Linked DNA regions of Homo sapiens. The protein of the gene in region 3 interacts with the protein of the main gene of each other region in a biochemical or structural test. Each region holds a gene or a part of one and is shown on either strand. Other genes may lie near its edges.

Evidence for each region.
Region 1: of the proteins of PDHA1 (region 3) and PDK2, one has a biochemical effect on the other in vitro, tested with the Homo sapiens proteins (one study listed by IntAct).
Region 2: of the proteins of PDHA1 (region 3) and PDK3, one has a biochemical effect on the other in vitro, tested with the Homo sapiens proteins (one study listed by IntAct).
Region 4: of the proteins of PDHA1 (region 3) and SIRT3, one has a biochemical effect on the other in vitro, tested with the Homo sapiens proteins (one study listed by BioGRID).

What each region holds. Positions count from the first base shown.
Region 1 is NC_000017.11:50,090,843-50,098,350, reverse strand, and holds the start of PDK2 (pyruvate dehydrogenase kinase, isozyme 2 isoform 1 precursor), read right to left. Parts: upstream 3,001-7,508; 5' UTR 2,916-3,000; coding exon 2,798-2,915; intron 2,657-2,797; exon of another isoform or gene 2,541-2,656; intron 2,220-2,540; exon of another isoform or gene 2,065-2,219; intron 929-2,064; coding exon 787-928; intron 454-786; exon of another isoform or gene 1-453. UniProt on the Homo sapiens protein: Kinase that plays a key role in the regulation of glucose and fatty acid metabolism and homeostasis via phosphorylation of the pyruvate dehydrogenase subunits PDHA1 and PDHA2.
Region 2 is NC_000023.11:24,468,277-24,475,316, reverse strand, and holds part of PDK3 (pyruvate dehydrogenase kinase, isozyme 3 isoform 2 precursor), read right to left. Parts: intron 1-7,040. UniProt on the Homo sapiens protein: Inhibits pyruvate dehydrogenase activity by phosphorylation of the E1 subunit PDHA1, and thereby regulates glucose metabolism and aerobic respiration. Can also phosphorylate PDHA2.
Region 3 is NC_000023.11:19,353,921-19,360,960, reverse strand, and holds part of PDHA1 (pyruvate dehydrogenase E1 component subunit alpha, somatic form, mitochondrial isoform 1 precursor), read right to left. Parts: intron 6,471-7,040; coding exon 6,378-6,470; intron 5,613-6,377; coding exon 5,457-5,612; intron 5,276-5,456; coding exon 5,204-5,275; intron 3,310-5,203; coding exon 3,242-3,309; intron 2,046-3,241; coding exon 1,937-2,045; intron 1,473-1,936; coding exon 1,308-1,472; 3' UTR 213-1,307; coding exon of another isoform or gene 128-212; 3' UTR 1-127. Other genes in the region: MAP3K15 (mitogen-activated protein kinase kinase kinase 15), read left to right, coding at 128-212. UniProt on the Homo sapiens protein: The pyruvate dehydrogenase complex catalyzes the overall conversion of pyruvate to acetyl-CoA and CO(2), and thereby links the glycolytic pathway to the tricarboxylic cycle.
Region 4 is NC_000011.10:214,513-219,365, reverse strand, and holds the end of SIRT3 (NAD-dependent protein deacetylase sirtuin-3, mitochondrial), read left to right. Parts: exon of another isoform or gene 1-324; coding exon 325-534; coding exon of another isoform or gene 535-588; intron 589-2,647; coding exon 2,648-2,668; 3' UTR 2,669-4,336; downstream 4,337-4,853.

The DNA.
Region 1 (7,508 bases), on a different chromosome or scaffold from region 3:
TACATGTGGGCACGTGCTCCTCAGTCTACAGGGAAATCACAACTATATCATACTGCAAGTCCAAAAGAACCAGCCCAAGATTTCTGCAAGGGTGCCACCAAAGTCAATGAGGATTAGCTATTTACATGCCCAGTGACAAGGGACACCCTTGTTTATTCTTCACGTGACTGGCCTTTGGCTAATTTCATCCAGTTACTTAACTTGAGTTCTTGAGTGAACTCTGCTGAGCCTTTCCCTCTGTTCCTGCTGCAGTGCGCAATAAACGTTTGGTCTTTGCCCCTCCAAAGCTCTTCGGGAAGGTACTGTGCCATCCTTGTGTGTATCTGAGTATTTTCCAACATCCAAAACAGTCTGTCTTGCAGCTTGGGTTATATAATGTATTTGAAAACTTACTTCTTGTTTCTGCTTCCCAAAAAGTTACCCCCAAATAAATACTGCCTAACAGTTACTGGAGTTCCAGGTCTGGGCTGCTGGCTAATGCTGACATCAGCCTGAATTGGGGTTTTGGCTGTGAAAACCATGCTTTCCTAGGTGGATCCTGTGTTTCCAGAGAAAGGTGGGTGGTAAGAAGAGGGCTAGACACAGAGACTAGGAGCTTGACCTCAGTCCTGCTCTGGCCTCAGATTCCCACGTGACCCTAGGCAACTCCAAGCGCTTGGGGCTTTGGTGTCTCCTGTCTGTCCCCACCCCACCCTCAAAGCTGCTAAAAGCTTGGAGATGCCATCCCTGAGCCCAGGGACACTGGCGATGGAGTGGGAGGTGCAGGGACTGAGCCAGGGGTCTCACCAGCTCTGCACCAGCTGCACGGAGGGTGTGCTCAGCACTCGGTCGGGAAGCAGGTTGATCTCTTTCATGATGTTGGCCAGGCGCACAGGCAGCTCCTGCCTGAGGAAGGTGAAGGAGGTTTTCTCACAGGCATTGCTGGATCCTGGCAGGAGAAAGAGGGGTGAGCCACAGAGCCACAGACTATGAAAGCCAAAGGATGTCTCGGCCAGGTCAGCTAAACCCTTCATTAACAGGGGGCTCAGAGAGCAAGTGACCTGCCCGGGGCACACAGCAAGGCTCCCCATCCCCTGCAGGGCTCAAACACCTACACCCCATGCCTAACACTTCAGGAGGTGTCATCCTCTCCTCATCCCCAGCTGAACCCTGCTTGCCTTTAACCACAGTGGACAGGGCCACTCCTGGGCCCATTTGGAGCTGCCTCTGGCCTCAGTCACCTCACTTCTCTTTCCTTCCCTCCCAGCACACTCACTTTGAGGGGCTGATTCCAGGGGACAAAGGAGCCTGGGAAACCCATCCCTACCTAGGACTGGGCTCTGGCTGAGGGGGGCTATGGCTAGACCACCACTGCAGGCTCCCAGTGTTGTCTCTGGCCAGCCCACCTCACCCAGCCTGGCCTGAATGCCCATGTGGGGCTGCTGTGTCTTAATGCCCATCCATGGGGCAAACGGGCCTGAGAACAGGAGTCCAAATGCCTCGGTCCTTGTCTGGTGTCAAGATGGAAAGGGTGGGGGACCGAATATGGCCTTGGCCCAGGGTCAGGGGCCCTGGGTTCCAGTCCATCAGGCTCTGCTTCCAACTCTGTCACCCAGGCCATGCCATCATCCTTTTGAAGGTCTCAGTTTCCCCCATAGTACTACAAGTTGACCAAACTCTACTGTGAGCCCCTCACAGCTGTGATGTTTCTGTAATTAGGGTGCAGTTTGTGGGGACAGCTGCTGGGGGCTAGGGGTGGGCCCAGGAGGCTTTCCTACATGGGGGAGGCTCAAGACTCAGGCAGGGCAGGGGTGCAGGCAGACAAGTCCTGAGGAACAGGTGCCTTATGTCTCGGCTGCCACCTCTCTGTTCCCGTCCCATCATTGACGCAGCTGCAACCCAAGCTAGGCACTATCAACTCAACTCTTGAGAGACTGCCCCCCACCCCCAGTCCCCAGCTGGCACCATGGAAATACCACATAGACAGACAGGGCCCACACAATGCCCATTTCAGCTGCCACGTTGGCACAGCCTCCCTCCTGCCCCAGGGCCACCCCCAGGTTGCTGGTAGTGGGCGATCCTGACCTAGCAGCCCTGGGGCAGCCAAGGGAGGTATAGGCGGCTTGACTCCACATCACGGTGCCTGGGGCCCCTGCCCAGCTGGGGAGAGGCTGCCAGGCCGGAACAGATTTGATCTTCAAGTGTCCTTGCCCACTGGGGCAGCTAGGGTCCAGCTCCTTCTGTGGGTGGATGTCTACCAGTCAGGGCACTGTCTCCCAATGGCATCTTCTGAAAGAGCCCCCTTCCCCAACTGCCCCTGGCTTAATCTCACCCTCTGCCCAGGGGTGTCTGACCCTTCATGCCCAGTCCAGGTCTCTCTACAGATGGCTGCACCTCTAAACCCTGCCTCCTCACTCCCACCAGCAGACCCCCGGTTTCCTCTGGTGGGAGGAGGGGCCCCTACTCCTCCAGTCATGAGGACAACTCCCATTAACCCTTTCGCGTCTGGATACCACCCTACTCCCTTCCTGCAGTAACATCACAGCTTCACTGCCCCTTACTCTTCAAGACCCTTCATGAGGCCCACGAAGAAACCTCGGGACCGTCCTTGTAAATGCCCCCCATTCCCATCAGCAGCCCCGTCGAGAGGCCCCGGCCGGTTCCTGCTTCCCCATTAACTCTTTCCTGCCTGTACCTTTCCAAACAACCCTTCTCTGTCACTCGGGGCCTTTCTTCTCCTCCGTCCCCCTAGCCCCCGGCTGCCCCTCCCAGCGCCCCGCCGGCCTCCGCTGCCAGCCGCCTCCCGCCCACTCCGTACCGAAGTCCAGAAACTGCTTCATGGACAGCGGGGACGGGGAGAACTTGCTGAAGTGCTCTATGTACTTGGGCGCCCCTGCCAGGGACGCATTCTTCAGCAGCGCCCACACCCAGCGCATGGCTGCGGCGGCCGCGACTTTGGTTGTGGTCCCCGCGCGGGCAGCGCTCGCGCACCTTTCGGCCCAGCGACGCGGTTCGGCCGCCTCCTCCCTACCCTTGCCCTGGCGGGCATTCCAACGCCCAGCCAATCGGCTCGTCATGGCGCCTCGACGTCGCCAATGGCCACTCACAAACAACTCCGGGCGAACCAATAGCCTTCCGCCCCGGCACGTGGCTTCCCCCGGGCCCGCCCCCTTAACCCACGCTTTGCCGGGGCGGCCTGTTGTTTTGGGGAGGCCGCGCCGAGTTCCCACCTCCCCTGTGTTCACTCCTCCCTTTCCTCCGCGGGGCGAAGCCCGGGTTAACCCCTTCCTTCCCAGAGCCCCGCCAGCCCTTTCGCTTCCTCTTCCACGCCTGCCTTTCCCTTGCTACCCCCTCGCATCTCCTTCACCTGCAGGCTCCTTTTAACCCTTCCTTTCCAGAGTTGTCTAGGTAGCTTTCAACCAATCCCTTTTCTCCAACTCAAAGGTACCTGTTTCACCTGTCATGATCGTTACCTATCCTCCCTTAACGGGTCTTGGGGATTCCCAGTCCGGATGACAGTGACCCAGACTGCGAATATTTGCAAAATTCGGAACCAGGGTGCAAGCCTATACGAATCCGTCCTGTATATATGCAGCCCACCCGCTTCCACAAAGATCCAAGCGGCTCAGGAAAAGGCGGAGTTTGCTTTTCCAACTGAAAAACATCCAGAGTAAAAACCATCACTACTAGTGGCGGTGGAGGCAGCAGCTATCGTCCATGCCAGTTAACACTTTCATTTTATTATACAGCTCATCTGACCGAACATAAAGCCTTGGACATCTAGCGCGACCACCTGAGAAAGCCACCTCCTTCGCACCGGGCTTCCTTAGAGCAAGATCCCAGGAGGTGAAGTGTCTCTGGGAGGCCCGGAGCCCGTCCTTCATCAGCGGCCCAGCTTCTCTTGGAGAAAATGTGACGCGCCCTCTTGTGGCCGAATGTGGTATCTCCCATCGTGGGTTTAGGGCCCGACCCGCCACTTTGATGCTTTCTTTGCTCGGTGACATTAGCCTAATACGTGTTAGGCTTTATGCTGGGAACAGGGAACACAGACAGGATCAAGAAATGGCCTTTTTCCTCGATGATTTCATTTCTAAGTTTCAGAGATAGCTACATAAGTAAATAATTAGCTATAACTGAATGTGATTGTAATACAGACCTCACAGAGCAAAGCTTCACATATGGAAGGGCCTCTTAGCTGGATGAATAATAAGCTATATGCCAGGCACTGTTTACAGGCATTATCTCATTTAATTCTCTATTTTATTATTCTTAGCCTCATTTCATAGATAAGAAAACCGAGACTCAGGGATCATTCTCAACTGCAAATCTGACCTTATTACTTCCTTGCTCACAGCCTTTCAATGGGCTATTTTTTTTTTTTTTTTTTTTTTTTTTGAGATTGAGTCTCCCTCTGTCGTCCAAGCTGGAGTGCAGTGGCACAACCTTGGCTCACTGCAAACTTCTCCTCCCAGGTTCAAGCGATTCTCCTGTCTCAGCTTTCCAAGTAGCTGGGATAACAGGCATGTACTACCATGCCTGGCTAATTTTTGTAATTTTAGTAGAGACAGGGTTTCACCATGTTGGCCAGGCTGGTCTTGAATTCCTGACCTCAAGTGATCTGCCCGCCTCAACCTCCCAAAGTGCAGGGATTACAGGTATGAGGCACTGTGCTAGGCCATCAATGGCTCTCTTCTTCTTACTGGAGCCTTTCCAGTTGTCACAAGTCGATTGACTTTTGCTTAATTCTCCAGACTCCTCTCTCTACATTCCCCCATGCAGCTCCCAGCCATACCTGTCTGCTGCCTTGAACCAGCCTCTAATCTCTAAGCCACTGCAAATGCATCTCTTCTGTCTGGATCATTCTTTCTTCCCACCTTCACCTGCCCATTCTTCAGGTCTCAGCTGCTTAGTCATCCCTTCCTCCTGGAAGCCTTCCTTGATCCTGCCAAGCTGGGTTATAGGCTCCCTTCAAGGGCTCCTTAGATCTCCTGGTCTTAGCAAATATTCGCAGTCTGGGTCACTGTCATCCAGACTGGGAATCCACAAGACCCCTTAAGAGAGGACAAGGAAAGATCAGGACATGTGAAACAGGTACCTCGTCGAGGAAAGGGATTGGCTGAAAGCTACCTGGACAAATCCAGGAAGGAGGGGTTAAAAGGAGCTGATGGTAGCTCTTATCAATTGAGTGAAAATTGTTTGCCAACTGATCTGTTTTCCCGCTAGACTTTAAGCTCCGTGAGGGCAGGGCAGGGGTTGTATCTGTCTTATTCACTGCCCTATCTCTAGCATCAGGCAGTACTCAGCACCTAGTAGGGAGGACAGGGTGAAAAAGAAGACAGGGCAAGCAGAGGAGCACACCACAGAGATATTCCAGAGAACCACCAAACATCCACTGGGCTAGCAATTAGGACGTGATTGATGATGCTGGTGAGTGCAGTTTTCAAGTGCACAGAATAATATATAGAATATTATGTACAAAAAAACCTGGCCCTCACTTTGGGAGGCTGAGGTAGGAGGATTGCTTGAGCCCAGGAGTTCGAGACCAGCCTGGGCAGCATAGCAAGATCTTGTCCCTACAAAAAATATAAAATTAGCTGAGTGTGGTGGCATGTACCTATAGTCCCAGCTACTTGGGAGGCTGAAGTAGGAAGATTCCTTGAGCCCCAGAGGTCAAGGCTGCAGTGAGCCAGAGCCATGATTGTGCCACGGCACTCCAATCTGGGTAACTGACTGAGACCCGGTCTCAAAAAAAAAAAAAAAAAAAAAAAAAAAGGCTTATTTCTGTGCCTAGCAATAAATGGTAGCTATTGCTGTTATTGTCAAAATTAAAGTAACAAGGAAAAGGCCGTGGCCTCTAAGGCTAGGTGTAGGAGAGGGAAAGAGATTTCCCATGACCCTCACCTTAGGCTGGACTTCCATAATGTGGGCTCTGTGCTTGGATAAGAACTCTTTCTGCAGAGCCTGCTGCAGGGTGCTAACAGCAGTGGTGTGATGTGGTACATCATAGTCAAGTTTGGTTAGGTGATGCCGAGGTAAACTGCACCCCCACCGATTCCCAAATCTCCCACTATATGTACAGTGTGGGTTGGTGGGGGGGGACTCTCCAAGGAGCTCAAGAAACTTGGCATTGCAGAGGGTTCTTTTACAGTGGGCATTGCTATATCTCTGCCAGTTATGTTTCTTTCATAATATGTAGCTCACGCTAGTTCTGAAAATGACCTATCCTCAAGAGTGTGTGTGTGTGTGGGGGGGGTCTTCCTCAAGCAGTGGCTCACAGGAGACTAGGGGGTCTGTGAAACTGGCCAGAGGGATGTGTCAACACCCCTGTCTTAAGCAGGAAGTGGCTGTAAGGACAAGACTGGGCCGAGCTTTGACAACCCACACATGTTATGCCCAAAGAACTGGATCCCAGATTCTAGAAAATAAAGTGTGGTCTCCATTCACTGGGTTCTGAGAGCTTGGCAGCTCCGGGTAGGGGCTAGGGTTTTCCTTGGGAAAGTGGACATTCCATTGTCAGTCACCCTGGGAAGGGGCAAATCCCGGCACAGAAAGTGAGGAGAGGGAAAGGGGCGGACATTGGGCCCAGAACCCTGTTGTGAGCTGAGCGCTGGTGGAGGGAGGTGGGGCAGGCAGCTGCCACCACAAGGAGGCTGGGAGGCACCCAGGCATCAGGTGGGTCTCCCAGAACAGCCTGGGTCTGTGAGCTCTGAGCATATCTGACCTGGCTTCTACCTCTGCGCTTCTCTGGGTAGCAATTTCCAGCCTCCAGTGAAGTCTTGCCAAAGTTCACAGCCTTAAGGAAAATTAACAGAAGGACCTAGGCCACATTCCAGGTCACAGGGGGAACAGCCTTACTCCATTCCCCAGGCCTGTGTGGAGGGGACAAACCGAGGGCAAAGGAGGAAGCTGCTTTGGGAACCCAGGACATGGCAGGAAGCAAAGCGAAGGCTTGATCCACGTGCTGTTGCCATGTAAGCCAGGCGCTCAAACACTCCCAAGGAGCTTCTGAAAGACCAGAGCTCTCAGCTCCTGGAGGCTGGACCTTGTGACAGTTCAGTCTCTGCAGCCTTGGATCAGTGGTTTACCTTCTGATCTCTTATTGGCGTCTGGTGGTGGTTGTGGGGAAACCAAGGCAGGAAAGCAGGCTCTTACCTGAATTCAGCCCGACTAAGGGCTCTCCTCTCTCCACCCTTGCACCCAGCCTCCCTCCACAGCCTGCCAGGACTGCCTGTTCCTACAGCTGAGTAGCTTTTACCTCTTCCCGACCCTGCACACTGCCACCTCTGCCTGCTCGTCCCTCCCCAGGGTCAGCACGCTGTCCTCCAAGAAGGCGTTCTGGGTTTCATCCAGGTCTCCCAAGGCTTACCCCTCATCTTCTGTTCTGGATCTCTATGACTGACCCTTAGATGAGAGGATTCCTGAGAGCAGGGGCCAGTGTCACCTCCATCAATCTTTTTATTTTTCTTTGAGACAGAGTCTTGCTCTGTCGTTCAGGCTGGAGTGCAATGGCACGATCTCGGCTCACTGCA
Region 2 (7,040 bases), 5.1 Mb from region 3:
TTACCCTCAACTAAATTTTTCTCTTCCCCTTTAATTCTGAATAGTTGATCCCTTTCTCCAAACAGGTTGGTCTAATTCTTGGTGACACCTTGTAGCAGAAAAACTACTGCTTACAGGGAAAAAAAAAAAAAATCTGTCATTTACATATGTAAAGGTACAAAATAAACACACTCGGAAGCAGAATGAGATTGTTTTTCCCTTTTCCTAACATAATTTTTTTAAAAACCTTTCCATTTTCTCCAAGAACGCAATCACTGTTGTCCCCAGTGGTGATCAGGCTTCAAGGAGCAAAATGACTTAAAAAGCCAAGACTTTGCGAAAGGGAGTCATTTGGAACCAAAGTATCTCCAAAGTATCTTAAAATATGTTCTAAAGGAAAAGAAGATGGCTGGGCCCTTAAACTTTAAGAATAGTAAGAATGCGGAAACTGGCCGCTACCTTCTAAGAGCTAAAGGCTCTGAGGTTCACAGAGCCGGTGTGATTATGACAGAAATCAAAATATTTAGTTTTGTGAAAAGACGGCAGGGCTATCAGCAATCTGCTTTCTGGTGGTTTTGAGAGATGCTATATTTACACATGGGGACACTATGGAAGTTTAAACTTGGCTGGGCACAGTGGCTCACGTCTGTAATCCCAACACTTTGGGAGGCAGAGGCGGGTGGATCACCTGAAGTCAGGAGTTCGAGACCAGCCTGGCCAAGACGGTGAAACCCCGTCTCTGCTAAAAATACAAAAATTAGCCGGGCGTGGTGGCGCATGCCTGTAGTCCCAGGTACTCGGGAGGCTGAGGCACGAGAACTGCTTGAACCTGGGAGGCGGAGGTTGCAGTGAGCCGAGATGGTGCCACTGCACTCTAGCCTGGGCGACAGAGTGAGACTCCGTCTCAAAATAAATAAATAAATAAATAAATAAATAAATAAATAAATAAATAAAATAAACTTATATAACTGACTAAATGAAAGTGGCATAATGTTTAATAACCTCGATATGGAGTCAGGCATGCCATCAGTAATTGCCATTTATGGAGCACCTGCTCTGTGCAGAGCAAGCTGAGCTGAGGAAGCTGTAAGAGGTTACAAAAAAGAGGTGAGCGCCTGCCCTTTGGAAAGAGACAATTGAGGATAAAATCTAAGAAAAGGAGGCAGGAGCAAAATCTCTTTAATGCAAGTGTGGCTGTGCAAAAGTAACTGGAAAATCAAACAAATGGGACGTCAGTCTGCAGGGAGGGGAGAAAAGTGGTTAATATGGGAACCAGAAGCCGACAGGGCGAGACTGAAAGATGAAAAGCAAGTCCAAAAGAAAATGTGAATCATTTCCTACCAACTCATTCAACATTCAGAAGGTTCTATCTTTATGCCATAATAGTCCAAGTTCTCCTTTTCTTATATAATTAAGAGAATTTTTAATTTATCACAACTGCTTAAGGGAAAGAGAACTCAAATTTGTGCAAATATAACAAGGAGCCACCATAACATTAACTGCCAGTCAAAAACAATACATTGATCCAAAAATCCAGAGAGGTTTATAGAAAAAAATATGGAACAAGACATGTGAAAGTTATATTTCAGGAAATAAATTCAGGCCAGGCACGGTGACTCATGCCTGTAATCCCAGCACTTTGGGAGGCAGAGGCGGGTAGATCACCTAAGGTCAGGAGTTCGAGACCAGCCTGGGCAATAGGGCAAAACCCCGTCTCTACTAAAAATACAAAAATAAGCCAGGCGTGGTGGCAGACACCTGTAATCCCAGCTACTCGGGAGGCTGAGGCAGGAGAATCACCTGAACCCGGGAGGCAGAGGTTGCAGTGAGCCAAGACCAAGCCGTTGCACTCTGGCCTAGGTGACAGAGTGAGACTCTGTCTCAAATAAGTAAATAAATAAATAAATAAATTCAACAAATGTGTGGTTGGTTTTTTTGTTTTTGTTTGTTTGTTTGTTTTGTTTTTTGAGACGGAGTCTCACTCTAGCCAGGCTGGAGTGCAGTGGCGCAATCTTGGCCCACTGCAACCTCCACCTCCCAGGTTCAAGTAATTCTCCTGCCTCAGCCTCCCGAGTACCTGGGACTATAGGCGCCCACCACCATGCCTGGCTAATTTTTGTATTTTTAGTAGAGACGGGGTTTCACCACGTTGGCCAGGATGGTCTCAATCTCTTGACCTCGTGATCCACCCACCTCGGCCTCCCAAAGTGCTGGGATTACAGGCGTGAGCCACTGCACCCAGCCAATAAATGTTTATTCTGAACATTAAAATGTGATGTTTTCATTGCTCCCAATAAGGAATTAACATATATTATCTGAAGCCACACTGTCCAATATAAATATGTGAGCCAGGCCAGGGGCTGTGGCTCATGCCTGTAATCCTAGCACTTTGGGAGGCTGAGGTGGGCAGATCACCTGAGGTCGAGAGTTCAAGACCAGCCTGACCAACATGGAGAAACCCCATCTCTACTAAAAATACAAAATTAGCTGGGCATGTAGGCGCATGCCTGTAATCCCAGCTACTTGGGAGGCTGAGGCAGGAGAATCACTTGAACCTGGGAGGCGGAGGTTGCGGTGAGCCCAGATCGCACCATTGCACTCCAGCCTGGGCAACATGAGCAAAAACTCCGTCTCACAAAAAAAAAAAAAAAAAAAAAAAAAAGAAAGAAAGAAATATGTAAGCCATATATATAATTTAAAATTTCCTAGTAGCCACATTAACATAAAAAAGAAATAAAGTTTTTGATAATATTCCATTTAACCCAACATATCTAAAATATTACCATTTCAACATGCAATCAATATAAGATGTACTGATATTTTACTATTTTTATATTAAGTCTTTGAAATCCAGTGTGTATTTTATACTGAAAGCACATCTCAATTCAGAGGCTAAATTTCTATCAGAAATAATTGACCTATAAAGAGATTTCCTAAAATTTACAGGTGATAAAGTGGATTCCATATCCAAGTTATTCTACACAGATGTAAAAATTAACTGCATCAAGTATCCATTTTAAATTTAAATTAAGTCAATTCAGTTTTTCGGCCACACTAGCCACATTTCAAGTGCTCAAAGGTCTCCTGGCTGACAAGTGGTGACCCATATGGGACAAAGGTCTATAGAAATAAAGTAATAACTATAAAGATAACCACTAGAACCAAAAATTCAAGCCTAGTTATTTATTAAAATAAATATGGCAAAACAAAGCAAATATATAACATAGGAAAACTGAGGTATTAAAAACAGAAAGCAACAGAAAATTACAAATGCTTATCATTACAGATGACAGATCTATCATACCAGTAAGTATAAATAGGTTAAACTTACCACATGAAAAAGACTGATTCACAAAGCAAAACCCAACTTTACACTACATTTAGAGACATATTTAGAGCGAAGTAATTCAGAAAAACTGAAAATAAAAGGATGGCAATGCTATCCCAGGAAATGTAAACAAGAAAATAGGGAACTAGATCTCAATGTCAAATAAGGACGAATCCAGGCCAAAAAGCCTTCAACTAGTAAAAGGGCAGCACTCTAATGCTAATGGGTATATCTCACAATGAGGATGTGAGTTAATAAGCATCAAACATAACACTGATAGTCATAAAGCAAAAACAATAGGAGCTATACGGAGAAAGAGAATCATTATTAGGAGACTTTAACTTCTCTTGTGTTTGATCCATGACAAATCAGGTGGATAAAAAAAGTAAAGTTACACAAAACCTAAATAACATAATATTGCAGAGCTGACATATCACACTCTGCAACCTGAGAAGAGAGTATAACCTTCTTTTCGCTGCCCAAGGAACATTCACAGAAAACAACCATATAATGAGCTTCAAAGTTAACATCAATAAATTAGAGAATAATTCAGACAACATTCTGTAATCACAGTGCAACAAAACTAGACATAAATAAAATTAAAATGCAGAATGCACCTTCACTGGAAATTTTTAACTCCTCCAAACAACTCTTCATTCATAGGAAAATAAAAACCTGAAGACACAGAAGAGCTAAGAGAAAAAAGACCAAATACACACATCAGCTGCTAAAGCAGTGCTCAGAGGAATAACTAACCTTAAACATTGAAATAAACAAGACAAAGAAGAAAGCATTTAATTTTTTTTATTATACTTTAAGTTCTGGGGTACATGTGCAGAACGTGCAGGTTTGTTACATAGGTATACACGTGCCATGGTGGTTTGCTGCACCCATCAACTTGTCATCTACATTAGGTATTTCTCCTAATGCTATCTCTCCCCTAGCCCCCCCACCTCCCGACAGGCCCTGGTGTGTGATGTTCCCCTTGCCGTGTCCATGTGTTCTCATTGTTCAACTCCCACTTATGAGTGAGAACAGAAAGCACCTAATTTTTAAAAGAACAAAATAAACCTGAGACCAGAAGGAATTATTAAAGTCAAATCAGACAATAAACTAGATAACAAAAGTCATAAAACTAATAAATCCAACCCAATAAATCATCAACTAACCTACTCAAGAAGAAGGGGGGGGACAAATGTCACAGGGAAAATTAAGACTGTTCAGTGACAACTATCTCAGCTATCCAAACTGACTTAAAAACCTCAATGAGTAGGATAATTTTCTTTTTTTCTTTTCTTCTTTTTTTTTTTTTTTTTTTTTTTGAGATGCCGTTTCACTCTTGTCACCCAGGCTGGAGTACAAGGGCATGATCTTGGCTCACTGCAACCTCCGCCTCCTGGGTTCAAGCAATTCTCCTACCTCAGCCTCCCCAGTAGCTGGGATTACAGGCACCCACCACTATGCCCAGCTAATGTTTGTATTTTTAGTAGAGACGAGGTTTCACCATGTTGGCCAGGCTGGTCTCAAACTCCCAACCCCATGTGATCCACCTGCCTTGGCCTCCCAAAGTGCTGGGATTACAGGCATGAGCCACCGCGCCTAGCCAAGTAGGATAATTTTCAAGAAAAATATATCAAAATGGACTCTAGAAGAGACAGAAAATCTACAGAGATCAATAACACAGAATAGAGAAAGCTATCAGAGAGCAAAACTCCCCAAAACATACAGGCTTAAACACTTTCATATGAAGTTCTACCAAATCTTTAAGAACCAGATAATTCAAAAGATAAATTAGTCTTAGCATAGGAAAAGAAAAAAATTTATCTTTTTGAAAACAAAAATTTATCTTTTTGAAACAAGCATGACTTTGATCAGAAAATCTAACAGACCACACATACAACATCTACAGACAAATAGCAAATGGATATCAATAAAACAAACCCAGGAGTTCATCATTCTATTCTCTCTACTTCTGTAAATGTTTAAGGTCTAGAGATCTAATGCACAACATGAAGAATATATAATAGATAATAAAATTGTACTGTATATGGGATTCATGCTAAATGAGTAGATTTTAGCTGACCTTGCCACAAAAATAAAAAAGGGTAACTATGTGAGATGATAGATATGTTAATTTCACTGTAGTAACCTTTTAACTATATGTATCCCATAACATCATGTTGTATACCTTAATTATACACAATAAAATTTATATATGTATTTACCTATACATGTACATCCCCCAGGCTGGAGTGCAGTGGCAGAAACACAGCTCACTGCAGCTTCAATCTGGGCTCAAGCCATCCTCCTGTCTCAGCCTCCTGAGTAGCTAAGACCCCAGGTGTGCGATACCACCACTCCTGGCTAATCTTATTTATTTATTATTATTATTTTTTTTAGAGACAGGATCTCACTATGTTGCCCAGGGCTGGCCTCAAACTCCTGGTCTCAAGCCATCCTCTGTCTTGGCCTCTCAAAGCACTGGAATTACAGGCACCCACCTAAGTTTTTTTTTTTAATTTCCACAATAAAAAACTAAAATAAAGACATCTTTACTCAAGGAGAAAAAAATTCTATCTAGATATATCATTTTTTTTTTACCTATCAAAAGTTTGACAACAATGTGGTGAAGGCATAGGAAAACAGGTACTCTCAGAAACTTCTAGCGAGGGGGAAAACAAACAACCTTTATGGAAAGCAATTTGACAATGTTCGCCAAAATTACAAATGCACATACCTGCTGATGTAGCAATCTCACGTTTAGGAATCTGTCCTACAGATACACGCGGACATGCATGAAATGACAATGCATATAATAATTCACTGGAGGGCAGGTTGCCACAGCAAAGTCTAGAAACAACCTATTAATTGTAGCCATCAATAGGGAAAGTTGCTAATAAATTCTGGTACATTCATATAACCAAATTCTCAGAAGCCATAAAAAAGAAAAACAAAGTTCTGCAGGTACAGATATACAAAAATCTGTCTCTAAGGTATTAAGCTCAAAAAACAAGGAACAGACAAAGCTATAAACTGCCATTTATGCGAAAAAAGGGGAGGCCAGTGGGCACAAGTGGGAAGCAGGCTTTTCTGTGTCCTTTTGAACCCTCTGAATTTGGAACCATGTGACTGTAATCTTAGGCCCAAAAGAAAAATCTCATTTTAAAAAATGCCACCCTTTGGAATGTACTATTGCCATAATAAATTAAAAATCCATTTAGAACACTTGTTATTCTTGCTATATTTGCTAACTGTGTGGCAGGCTATATTTCAAGTCAAGATGGAGTTCAAGAAACTTTCATTATTTTAAAAAGCATAGAGAAAAATACTGCACATAGATGAAAGGGGGCCAGCAGATCAGACAGAAGATCATCTGATTAATGGTGCTTAACCCTGGATATGCTTTAGAATGACAGGGGGATCTCCTAAAAATACCAGTGCTCTGCTCTCCACCCCCAGCACCCCCAGACCATTTACAACAAAAATTCAGAGTATGAGGCCCTGGCCTGAAAACCACTCAAGTAAACACTTCCAAACAGTGATTCAACAGAAGTCCAGGGGACATTTTGCTCCCCCAGGGGACATTTGGCAATGACTGGAGACATGTTTGGTTGTCACGACTTGGAGTGGGAGGTGCTCATGGCATCTAGTGGGTAGAGGCCAGGGATGTAGCTCAACTTCCCACAGTGCACAAGACAGCTCCTACCAAAATTACCTGGCCTGAAATGGCAAG
Region 3 (7,040 bases):
ACGAGCGTCACCTCCATATGTGAGGAGAATGTTTTTATTTTCATTAGGTTTTTAAATTAGGGACTGCAGTTTTAAGCTCTGTTGGCTTGAAGCACTGACTCTGAAGACAGCTGTGTTTGTTTCCCAGGGGTGGTCTCCTCTGCAGACTCTGGAGTGCGGTCTCCCAGTACAGAAGGGCTCAGGAGGCCTCAGAAACCAAAGACAAGGCTTGATACCAATCAGCTAAGCTGTGGCAGAGTGTCCCACCACGCTACATGTTTTGTTAAAGCTTCTGTTAGTGTATACACGAATTCCGCTGTGTTTACATATTTAAAAATGCCATTGTTCAATTAATAGTTTAAGAACTTGTTTTAAATACTGTCCTGAGTTTCTTTTGAAACCTGTTATTTATAAACATAGAACTGTGTGTATTGTGAAAACAGTGAGCCTTGGTTTTGACCTCCCGGAATATTAGGAAATTCACTTGTAGTCCCAGCTATGCAGGAGGCTGAGGTGGGAGGATTGCTTGAGCCCAGGAGGTGTGGAGGCTGCAGTGAGCCATGATCACACCACTGCACTCCAGCCTGGGCAACAGAGCCCGACCCTGTCTCAAAAAAAGTACACCCTTCAGCACTTGCTGGAATGGTGAAACAAACAAGGGGTATTTAACAAACATGGAAGCTGGGACACTGCCTCAGAACTGGTATGGTACTTCAATTTGAGAAACACAAAACTGATACGAATGTGCCTTGTAGTTAATGTTTGATATGAACAGAAAATAGCTTCATATTTATACTGAATGTGTAAGTAGAGAAAACTAAGTTATGTGGCCTTTGAAATGATTACAAAATTGGAATGATTACAAAAGTCTTATTTTAAAATGGAACTGTCCTCTTGCCTGATAATAAATATTGTATCTTGTAGAGAAATGGTCAGCGCGAACAGGCTGCAGCACCAGCGCTGCTCGGGGTGGGTGCTATGGTTGGTAGAATGCTGTGAGGGGCCCCGCCATAATGGTCTCCTCCCAAAAAGGTGGCTGGGGGCAGGGGAAACAGGCATACAAGGAATTGTTCTTCCTTTTCATAATTAGAGTATTTGTTCAAAGTATACTATTTTAAGTCAAAAATAATCTTTAAGCACTCAATAATTCATCTTTTAATGCACTAATGTACAAACTGCATGCAATTACTACCTGCTCAATCTACACACTTAATGGAAGTTTCCAAGAATTTCATTGAATTTCATTGACTGGGTTTTCTTCCTCCTTAACCAAGTTGAGAACACTGTCTGGTAGCCCCCTGAAGGTATAACCTCTCCTTCTCCTCCCCTTAACTGACTGACTTAAACTTGATCCACTGATTGGCACCACGAACTTCAAAAGGTGGGTCGCTGGAGTAGATGTGGTAGCCCAGCTCTTCCAAAGGTGGCTCAGGATCGGCCGTGGCAAACTGGGCAGCATCCTCAATCTCCTTCCTCACTTCCACATCAATTTCCTAAAAATTAGGTAACAGTGTAAAAGGTTTTAGAATGAACAGCAGCTTAGGTACCAACTAGAGTTCTGCTGAGGACCTGTTGCTGGTGTAACTCTTTAACTACAAGTACGAACAGTTGCTAATTCAGAAGATTTTGGAATACAGATTTCTAGGGTGTATCTATTTTATGAATTAAAAATCCACAGTATACTTTTAGGAAAAAAGAACCATACTACTGTGGGGGCTTTGCCACTGTGATGGTGGTTCACAGTCCACCAAAATCTGAAATCTGAAGAGTAATACAATTTTGAATAGAGGAAACTAAAGGAAAAGCCCCCACCCCAAGGGACTTTGGAACTATGGAACTATTTATGTCCCAGGACATCACTTTCTGGGCTTGGAGGAACCCACACAAACTCTGTGGCCACCCAGGGGTGGCAACTTTTAAAGCCAACCTTCAAACCACCATGAACAAGTGACTGTACCTTTAGTTCTTCCACACTGGCAAGATTGCTGTTCACCATCCTGTCCTTGAGAAGCATAATAGGGTCACTCTTACTTCTTACTTCCTGAATTTCTTCTCGTGTACGGTAACTATGGGGAGGGAAAAGTAGTAATCGATCAGTAAGAGCAGTTCCAGTAGAGCAAGGACGGCGTGATGAAACATGATATGGGGTTGGATTGTCCCAATGAGGTGAAATACAGAAGTGTGTTTCTGAAACAAAGGGGCATACCAATGCTTATGTCACTATAGGCGTGGCAGAGTTGTTGTTATACTTTCAAAATACCAGAACGCAGCCTAACATTCTGTAATAACTGCTTCTGTCTTTTCTAGAAAACCGTACACTGGTGAGTCACATGGCTTCCCTGGCATTCCGACAACAGGGGCCAAGTTTTTGCTTGCTGCTTTGATTTAGATGTAAGGTTCTAAAGAAGTGTCACTTGTCCCACCCATTTGGGCTCCTGTATACTACATGGGTGGGGACAGCAGAGATGGTGTGTGTGGTGATAATTAGACTTTGAGACATCAGAGCGCCAAGCAGGAAATCCATGTGCCTTGCCTTTCTCCCTTAAGTCCCCCTAAAGAAGCACAGCCAGCAAAACCAATGTATCTTATGCCTATATCATCTGAAGTAACACTAAAAGGATTCTACCATTTTCAACAATAGATTTACACAAAGTGCATTTTTCCATATACTGTGCTCTCTACATGATTTTTCCTTAGAAGTCCACTCTACAAAGGCTTATTTATTCAACTGTGTCAAAACTGGGATTCCAGAATCACAGGCCAGAGCTACTAAGCAAAAAAGTAAAATTCATGCCTTCCTAGTGGAACCTAGCTTTTTTGATTGATGTATTTCAACGGATTGAACACCCAGTTACCCTTAGCTCTATACCAGACAGAGGAACATCTCCAAATTCTGATCCTCTTCAGGTAGAGTATGCCAGGTGTAGACTTGGGGTAATGCCTACAAAAGCTAAATGCCCCCAAGATACTACACTACCATCAGCCCTGTTTTATGTAACAATTTCCCTCTACAATTAAGGTATATAACACTCTTTCTTTAAAAATTGCTGCTTGTGCTCACACACACTATACACTGTAGGCATTTTCAGAAAGCTTTCTTATTAGGAGGCACTGCTTTCAGATAACTTGATGCCCAACACAACTGCGTACATGAAGTGAACTGGTATCTAGCTCCAAAAGCAAATACTGAAATGTGTTGCTTTTGCCATGTAACACCATTCAAAGCCCACCCCTATGGAAACCACACTGCCCATGAGCGTACCTGACTCCAGGGTCACTCATACTGTGTCCGTGGTAACGGTAAGTCTGCAGCTCCATCAGGATGGGCCCCTAAAACAGAACCGGTAGGCAGTTAGTTAGTTAGGAACGATGACTGGAAGAACAGGCCGGCAATCCACGGCCTCAAACGCAGGCCCTTTATTAAGCGTCCAGTGTAGTCTTATCAGATCTTCTGAGTTGTCACGAATTTCTTATTGGTTGACTGATCTGTTCTCATTTCTAGCAAGTATTGATTGCATATTTCATCTTTCTCATTTTTAATAAGGCAATCTGCCAACAGCTTGTTTTGAATCAAAAAGGCTTTGAAGGCCAGGCATGGTGGCTCATGCCTGTAATCCCAGCACTTTGGGAAGCTGAGGTGGGCAGAGCACTTGCGCCCAGGAGTTCGAGACTAGCCTGGACAACATGGCAAAACCCCATCTCTATCAAAAAATACAAAAATTAGCCAGGCATGGTGGCGTGCGCCTGTAGTCCCAGCTACTTGGGAGGATCACCTGATTCTGGAAGGTCAAGGGTGCAGTGAGCTGTGAGTGTGCCACTGCGCGAGACCCTGTGAAAAAAGAAAAAGGCTCTGAGCATGTTCTAGAGCCTCCTGCTATTGGCTAGACAGATTTCCATCTCATGCTCCTTTCTCATGGTGTGTTGTGGGGCTGGCAGCCACTCCTACTTCACAGACCTTGCTAGTGTGTAACAAAGTTGGCAGGCACCAACAACCTCTGCTACCCAAACCCCAAGGCTCTGCTGGGAGTCTGGACAGTTGGGCTCGCTCATTCTACACTAGCCCACTTCCAGGAGACGGCTCTGAACACTGGGGTGGAGAAACATTGAGGATCCTTGGTTGGTTTGGTGCAGCAGTTAAAATGGGCGAGTGGGGAGCTGGCTCCAAGACAGAGTAGCTGTGTACCTTTAACTGCTCTATGGCTCAGTTTCCTTGTCTGCAAAATGGGCAAAACAATAACACCTAACTCAGAATTGTGAAGGTTATCTGTTTGGGAAAGTCACACATTCTACAACTACATTCTACAACTCCCCTTGTCTCCAGCCAGGGCTGGCCCCCATGTATTCTTTTCAGGAATTGGGAGAGGTGGCGTCAATACCCATCACTCAGGGCCTGGCACTCCCAGCCTTAGGGTCCTGACATAGACTGCTCAGCCCATTGTACCCAAGCTGTAGTCTTGGTCCTGCTCTAGTTCATTCTACTCATTAGCTCTTATTTAATGTTACTACATTCCCACCCTCACTTCCCTGTCTCTCCACTTTGTGACATTTCCATCATTGCTGGCCACATCTGATTCACATCACTGCCTAAACGTACATGGTATGGCGCTGAAGTGCCAACTTCAGAAACCTTGTTTCTGGGCTGTAGAACACTGATTTAGGGAGAACACCCAAACCTCCTAAGCCTATACTAGTGCCAAAGGAAGTGAAACCTCTTTAGGCCAGTCTCCCTCTTACCATCTCCCTCACTGCCATACACTGAAAAGGGAAAGATCCTTAGGACTGAGCAAGACTAAGATTACGAGCTTCTACCATACTGTTTAATTTGTATAAGACACACATATTAAATGCCTATTGTATACATGACATTCTATGCTGGACACTGTGGGGATCCCCAATCTGTTCCTTCAAGGGACTCATGATTAATGGGGGGTGGGGAGGAGGGACAGAATTAACCTAAGGAAAAGGCAAATCAGTTGTCATGAAGACAGGCCAAAGCAGAGGAAGCACCAGAACGGACTTCCCCCAAATGAGAGAAACGTAGGCTTCCCAGCAGGTGAGCTACCAAGACCAAGCTACCCAAAGGAGCCCTGCTCCCTTCACTCTGCTTCCATCTCATGCACCTCAATTAGCAGGTACCCACTAACAGCTTCAGCAGGCACATGGGAGGCAGTCTTTGAACTTCCAGAGATAAATGTCACTAGCCCAGAGGGCTTTAGAGCCTTACCTTCCCAGATCTACAATAGGCAGCAGCAAACCTTGTTGCCTCTCGGACGCACAGGATATCCATTCCATCCACCTGGTAATAAACAGGGGAGGGGCGAAGCATGAATCCAACTGCCCCAAACCATTTTACTTTCACATGACCTGCTCCTGTATGAGAATGAAACTCTCCAATGTTTCTAAGATCGTCAAGGGTCTGCACAAGGACATACCCTTGGCCTTGGCCTTGGCCCCGGCCCCACCACAGGTGTCCTTACTCTCAGCCCAGGAATGAAATCGCCTCTCTTGTAGTAATCAGTGCTGGCTGCCGCTCTCTCAACAGACGTTCCCATTCCATAGCGATTATTCTCACAGATGAAAATACAAGGTAATTTCCACAAAGCTGCCATGTTGTAAGCTTCGAATATCTGGCCCTGGAAGTAGTTACGAAAAGGGGTTTCATTTGGCTTCTTTCTCCAGGCTTCATCATCTCTAACAGCTGCTGCTCTGCCTGGCACAGAAAGCTTTCATAAAGCACAGAAAGCCTCCTCTTCTAAAACCGAGCTTTGGGTGGTGAGGGAAAGCGGGGTGGGTGGTGGAGGAGAAGTAGCAGGCATCATACTCTTGCAACTAAGGAAGGTGACAAACCAACTACTACTTGTTTCTTTGGGGCCATGCTAGCAGTAAGGAACACACTGGAAAAAAGATCAATATGAAATCTATCAGGCCCACTGGATAGCCAGAGTGAACCAGCACCTAAGAATCAGCCTCTAGAACAGGGCTTCACAGAGTGCTGGCCACAGACTGGGGATTACTCGGTAACAAGAGAAGCATAGAAACTGAGTTAGGACTCAGACGCTATTATCCGAATTTGACACTGCCAGCCCGGACATCCAAGAGAATGGGTCTGTATTGTTTTGCAATAGGTTGTGGGGAGGTCCTTTACCACAGGGCCTTTGCCAAGCACTGATGTAGAGCAAAGGTGAGCTCCTTCACAGGAATGTGCCCCCGTAAGTCTCTTGTGAAACAACGCTAAGAGGTCAATCTCTAATCTGGCCATAAGTCAACCAAATTTGAGCTAGCCATAGGACTTGCTATTTCACCTAATAAGCAATATGCTACTTCTTTAGAAATTCAACTGTAAATATTAAAGACTTTGAAAATAAGACTGTTTTTGGGAAGTTAAGAGACATAATTACCTGGTTAGCAGCACCATCGCCATATAAAGTCAGGCAGACCTCATCTTTTCCATTATACTTACAGGCTAGAGCAATCCCAGCGCCCAGGGGCACCTAACATTAAGGACAACCGAGAAAGGAACCACAGAAATCCATGAGGGGAGATACTAATTAATGCCCTGCATTTTCACTCCTGGCCAGAATCTGACACAGAAATTACACTGCTGCTACAAACTCTCCTTCCAACCCTATCTCTCTGTTTATCCCACCTCCGATATTTTCAATAAAGCACTAAAGTAATATATAAATACTATGTTCTATTTTAACCAGTAAGCACTAACATTTCTGCATTCAAGAGTTAAAAAATAAAACCTGGCCGGGCGTGGTGGCTCACGCCTGTAATCCCAGCACTTTGGGCAGATCACGAGGTCCACAGATCGAGACCATCCTGGACAAGATGGTGAAACCCCGTCTCTACTAAAAATACAAAAAATGGTTGGGCATGGTGGCACGTAACTATATTCCCAGCTACTCGGGAGGCTGAGGCAGGAGAATTGCTTGAACCCGGGGGTGGAGGTTGCAGTGAGCTGAGATTACACCACTGCTCCAGCCTGGGCGGCTGAGCAAGACTCCATTTCAAAAGGAAAAATAAAACCTAGGTTTAAAAAAAAACAACACATAATA
Region 4 (4,853 bases), on a different chromosome or scaffold from region 3:
AGGGAGAACAGAACGTGCTCACAAAGAGGAGGCAGGAAGGTTGGATCCCTGATGAGCCTTGGAACGGAGGTGGGGAAAAGCAAGGATGTGTGGAAACAGCAAGAAGTGGGAGAGAGAGAGAGAGGCGGAGGGGAGAAAACCGTCACGGAGGCCAAGCGGCAGGAGCTCAGCTGAAGAAATGAGATTGGTGGTGGGTTTTCCCTATATCGCAGGCTCTGACTGCCAATCTGCTGCTCCTCCAAGGCCTCGGTGGCTGTGGCATGAAACATCCTGAGGAGCTTGTAAAGTGGACACTGTGCCCCTCACGTTTGGCCCATTTTTCAGGTGGAGCCTTTTGCCAGCTTGACCGAGGCCGTGCGGAGCTCAGTTCCCCGACTGCTCATCAACCGGGACTTGGTGGGGCCCTTGGCTTGGCATCCTCGCAGCAGGGACGTGGCCCAGCTGGGGGACGTGGTTCACGGCGTGGAAAGCCTAGTGGAGCTTCTGGGCTGGACAGAAGAGATGCGGGACCTTGTGCAGCGGGAAACTGGGAAGGTACAGACTGCTGAGGAGGACCATCCAAGGGGCTGCCCTTCTCACTGCTCTAGGGTATGGTCCACCTGATATGGAGCCCCGTTGGTTAACACAGTAACAGTAATAGCTGATGATGCTGTGAATCCTGCACCAGGCACTACCTGGACCTGACTGGGTGTTACTTTCAATACCTCCATTTAGAGATGAGGAAACAGATGCTAACAGGCCAAGCAGGGACACGGTCCAGACACTCAGGGCTGATGAGTCTGTATTCTTAACAGACTATAGGCGTTACCTTCACTCCCTAAAATAAAGCAGCCAACAGTGTCCCTCTAAGGCCTGGTATGTGATTCTAAGATGATACGGGTTAAAGAACTTTGAGAAGCTAAAGTTCTCTGCATCTATGTGGGATGAAGGCTACATGAGTGATGCTTTTCGGAAGTAATTGGTATGAGAGCCATTGATCAATTATAATCCGCTGAGGAAAGCCAAAGAGCCTTGATGCTTTCTAAGAGATTTCAAACCGCCTATAAACAAGTGAAGTTACAGAAAATGCAGTTTCCCATAAGAATCATGTAGCATGTGTAGCCTTGATATTAAGGGTTTTCAATGGGAGGTGGTAGCATTAAGCATTTAAAGTCCAGTGTCATGATTACAGGCAGGTGTAACACTGTCCAAAGGGGATTTCACCAGTGTATTAGTCTGTTCTCTGGCTGCTCATAAAGGCATACCTGAGACTGGGTAATTTATAAAGGAAAGAGGTTTAATGGACTCACAGTTCCATATGGCTGTGGGGGCCTCACAATCATAGTGGAAGGCAAAGCAGGAGCAAAGTACTGTCTTACAAGGTGGCAGGCAAGAGGACGTGTGCGGGGGAACTGCCCTTTATAAAACTATCAGATCTTGTGAGACTTATTCACTATCAGAAGAAGAGTGTGGGAAAGACCCGCCCCCATGATTCAGTTACTTCCACTTGGCCCCACCCTTGACACATGGGGATGATTACAATTCAAGGTGAGATTTGGGTGGGGACACAGCCAAACCATATCAACTACAATATATCACAGTTGATGCTCCTCTTGCCTTCCAAGGCAGATGTCTTAGGAAATCCTGATCCTTTTTCCTTGTCCACAGCTGTGGCTGCCTCATGGCTCAGGGCCATGGGGTCAGCACTCTCCTCACCTCCACCAGTCCAAGACCTCCAACCTCTGGTTGCAGGCTGATTTTTTACCAATCATGGTCACTTCATTATGGAGGCAGGGAACCCAGCTAACAATGAGGCTTAAACGCTGAGAGGCGAGTGCCTCCTGGCCAGCTCACAAGGCAGCGGAGATCTTAGATCAGCCCAGCAGGCTTTTTTGAGGGATCCTTTTCCTGCTCCAACTTCATATTTTCTTTTTTTTGTAATGGAGTTTCACTCTTGTTGCCCAAGCTGGAGTGCAATGGCACGATTTTGGCTCACTGCAGCCCTGCCTCCTGGGTTCAAGTGATTCTCCTGCCTCAGCCTCCTGAGCAGCTGGGATTACAGGCATGTGCCACCATGCCTGGCTAATTTCTGTACTTTTATTAGAGATGGGATTTCATCATGTTAGTCAGGCTGGTCTCAAACTCCTGACCTCGGGTGATCCACCTGCCTCAGCCTCCCAAAGTGCTGGGATTATAGGCATGAGCCAGCAGGCCCGGCCCAACTTCCTGTTTTCATAGAAAAGCAGATTGTAACTCTGGTAGCTCCTGTGGAGTTTTGGAAGTGGCTTAATAGGATTTGAACTGTATAATCTAGTTTCAGAGAAATGTATGTAAAATGGGTTATGATTTCATTTTCTGTTTTTTACAGCATTACTATCCAAGGGGTTACTTTTCCAAATAGTGAATGCTTTTAAGCACATGAGCATCAGTACATATTGATTTGGGTACTTTAAGACCCATAGAATGAGGCTCTCCATTTAGCCACCCTGTTCTGCCCAGGCCTGCTGGGATCCTCTTAGCCCAGCACAGCAGCAGCAGTATTTGCAGAAAGCAGCTTGTTTTGTGAAATATTTTGCATGTCTGCAGCTAGAGCTGTTTGAACAGAGATCTGCTGGCCTGCCTGGGTGTGTAAACAGATAGCTGATACCCTCTGTCTTCTGTATTCCAGCTTGATGGACCAGACAAATAGGATGATGGCTGCCCCCACACAATAAATGGTAACATAGGAGACATCCACATCCCAATTCTGACAAGACCTCATGCCTGAAGACAGCTTGGGCAGGTGAAACCAGAATATGTGAACTGAGTGGACACCCGAGGCTGCCACTGGAATGTCTTCTCAGGCCATGAGCTGCAGTGACTGGTAGGGCTGTGTTTACAGTCAGGGCCACCCCGTCACATATACAAAGGAGCTGCCTGCCTGTTTGCTGTGTTGAACTCTTCACTCTGCTGAAGCTCCTAATGGAAAAAGCTTTCTTCTGACTGTGACCCTCTTGAACTGAATCAGACCAACTGGAATCCCAGACCGAGTCTGCTTTCTGTGCCTAGTTGAACGGCAAGCTCGGCATCTGTTGGTTACAAGATCCAGACTTGGGCCGAGCGGTCCCCAGCCCTCTTCATGTTCCGAAGTGTAGTCTTGAGGCCCTGGTGCCGCACTTCTAGCATGTTGGTCTCCTTTAGTGGGGCTATTTTTAATGAGAGAAAATCTGTTCTTTCCAGCATGAAATACATTTAGTCTCCTCAAAGGGACTGCAGGTGTTGACATGAGTTGGAAAGGGAACCCTGGGATACGTGGCGTCCCCTCTATTGGAACAGTCTGAGGACTGAAGGCATTTGTCCCTGGATTTATTGGAGACGGCCCAGCTCCTCCCTCTGAAGGTGGTCACATTCTGTTGACTCTCCATACTCAGCCTCTCCTCCAGAAACAGATCTGTTCCAGAACATTCCAGCACTTTCTATCTGGCCTCCTTGTCCCCACACTACGCCCCCCCACCCTCGCCAGGGCTTCCTCTAGTGACACTGTTAGAGCTAATCTCTGAGACAGGGAAGGCATTACTCACTTAAAACCCAGGCTGAGTCCTGGCCACCTGCTGGATTGTGACATAGGAGGTGGAATCCACTGAACTGCTACTTCTGCACAGGCTCCTTCTCCTGGGGCTGTACCCAGGCCCAGCCCTGATGGCTCACCCTGTCAGGCACCAGCTGCTCCCTCCTGGGCTCTCACCCACCTGCACATCCTCCTTCCTAGCATCACATTACCTGCGTGTTTCCCCAGACAAAAGCACTTCCCATTCTTGAACCTTGCCTACCCTGGGCTGAGCTGACGGCAATAGATTTAATGACAGTGACTCCCAGGAAGGGGGTCCTGTGACTTTGCGCCTTAATAAGAACAAAAGGTGGAATTGGTGACCTAGGAAAACTGTTGAATTCTAAAAAGAATGAAGTTAGTTTCTAACCCTAGTTAATGTTCCTTTTTTATTTTTTGAGTCTTGCCCTGTCACTCAGGGTGGAGTGCGGTGTTATGATCTCAGCTCACTGCAACTTCCGCCTCCCGGGTTTAAGCGATTCTCCTGGGTAGCTGGGATTACAGGTGTGTCCCACCACACCTAGCACATGGGCATATTTGTAATAGAGACAAGGTTTTGCTATGTTGGCCAGGCTGGTCTCGAACTCCTGGCTTCAAGTGATCCACCCACCTCGGCCTCCCAAAGTGCTGGGATTACAGGCATGAGCCACTGTGCCTGGCCCCTTTATTTGATAATTTACACATACATTTTTGTCCAAAACTCTTCTTTATTTCAAGATGATGTTTCTGTGGCTATGTGTGGTATGTGGTATAAATCTCAATCTATGGTCACACGAGGGGCATTTTCCTTGTTGTAAGTGTAGTCTAAACCAGTAGGAAGGAGGTTTAATTGCCAAAACCAGCGAGAACTCGGGCACTGTGGATACTACAGTGGGCAGCTGAACGAGGACCAAGGAGAATGTCTAAGAGGCCTCCAGCCCTGCGCTCAGTGAAGACAGGACAGGAACAACAGAGCATACATACCTTGGAAGGGTGTGTTCTGATATACTCGTATGGAAAGTTCTGACAGGTTTTCTCCCTGGGAAGTGCAGCACATACCCCAACACACTGGCTCTGCCAGTGTGCCAATCCCAGATGGTGCTTGCTTTGTGTGCACCCACACCCAAACCCCTGCCCTCCCATATGCTCTTCTGTGTGCCCAGGTAGGCCCTGCCCTCAGGCAGCAGCTTCTGAACACATTCCTCTTGGCGCAGACAAAAGAAAGTACTTCGTCTGTGGAATTCGAGGCTGAGCCTGAGTTCTAGCACAAGAAGACCGTTGCAGTCCAGAGATGAGAAACTGGACCAGA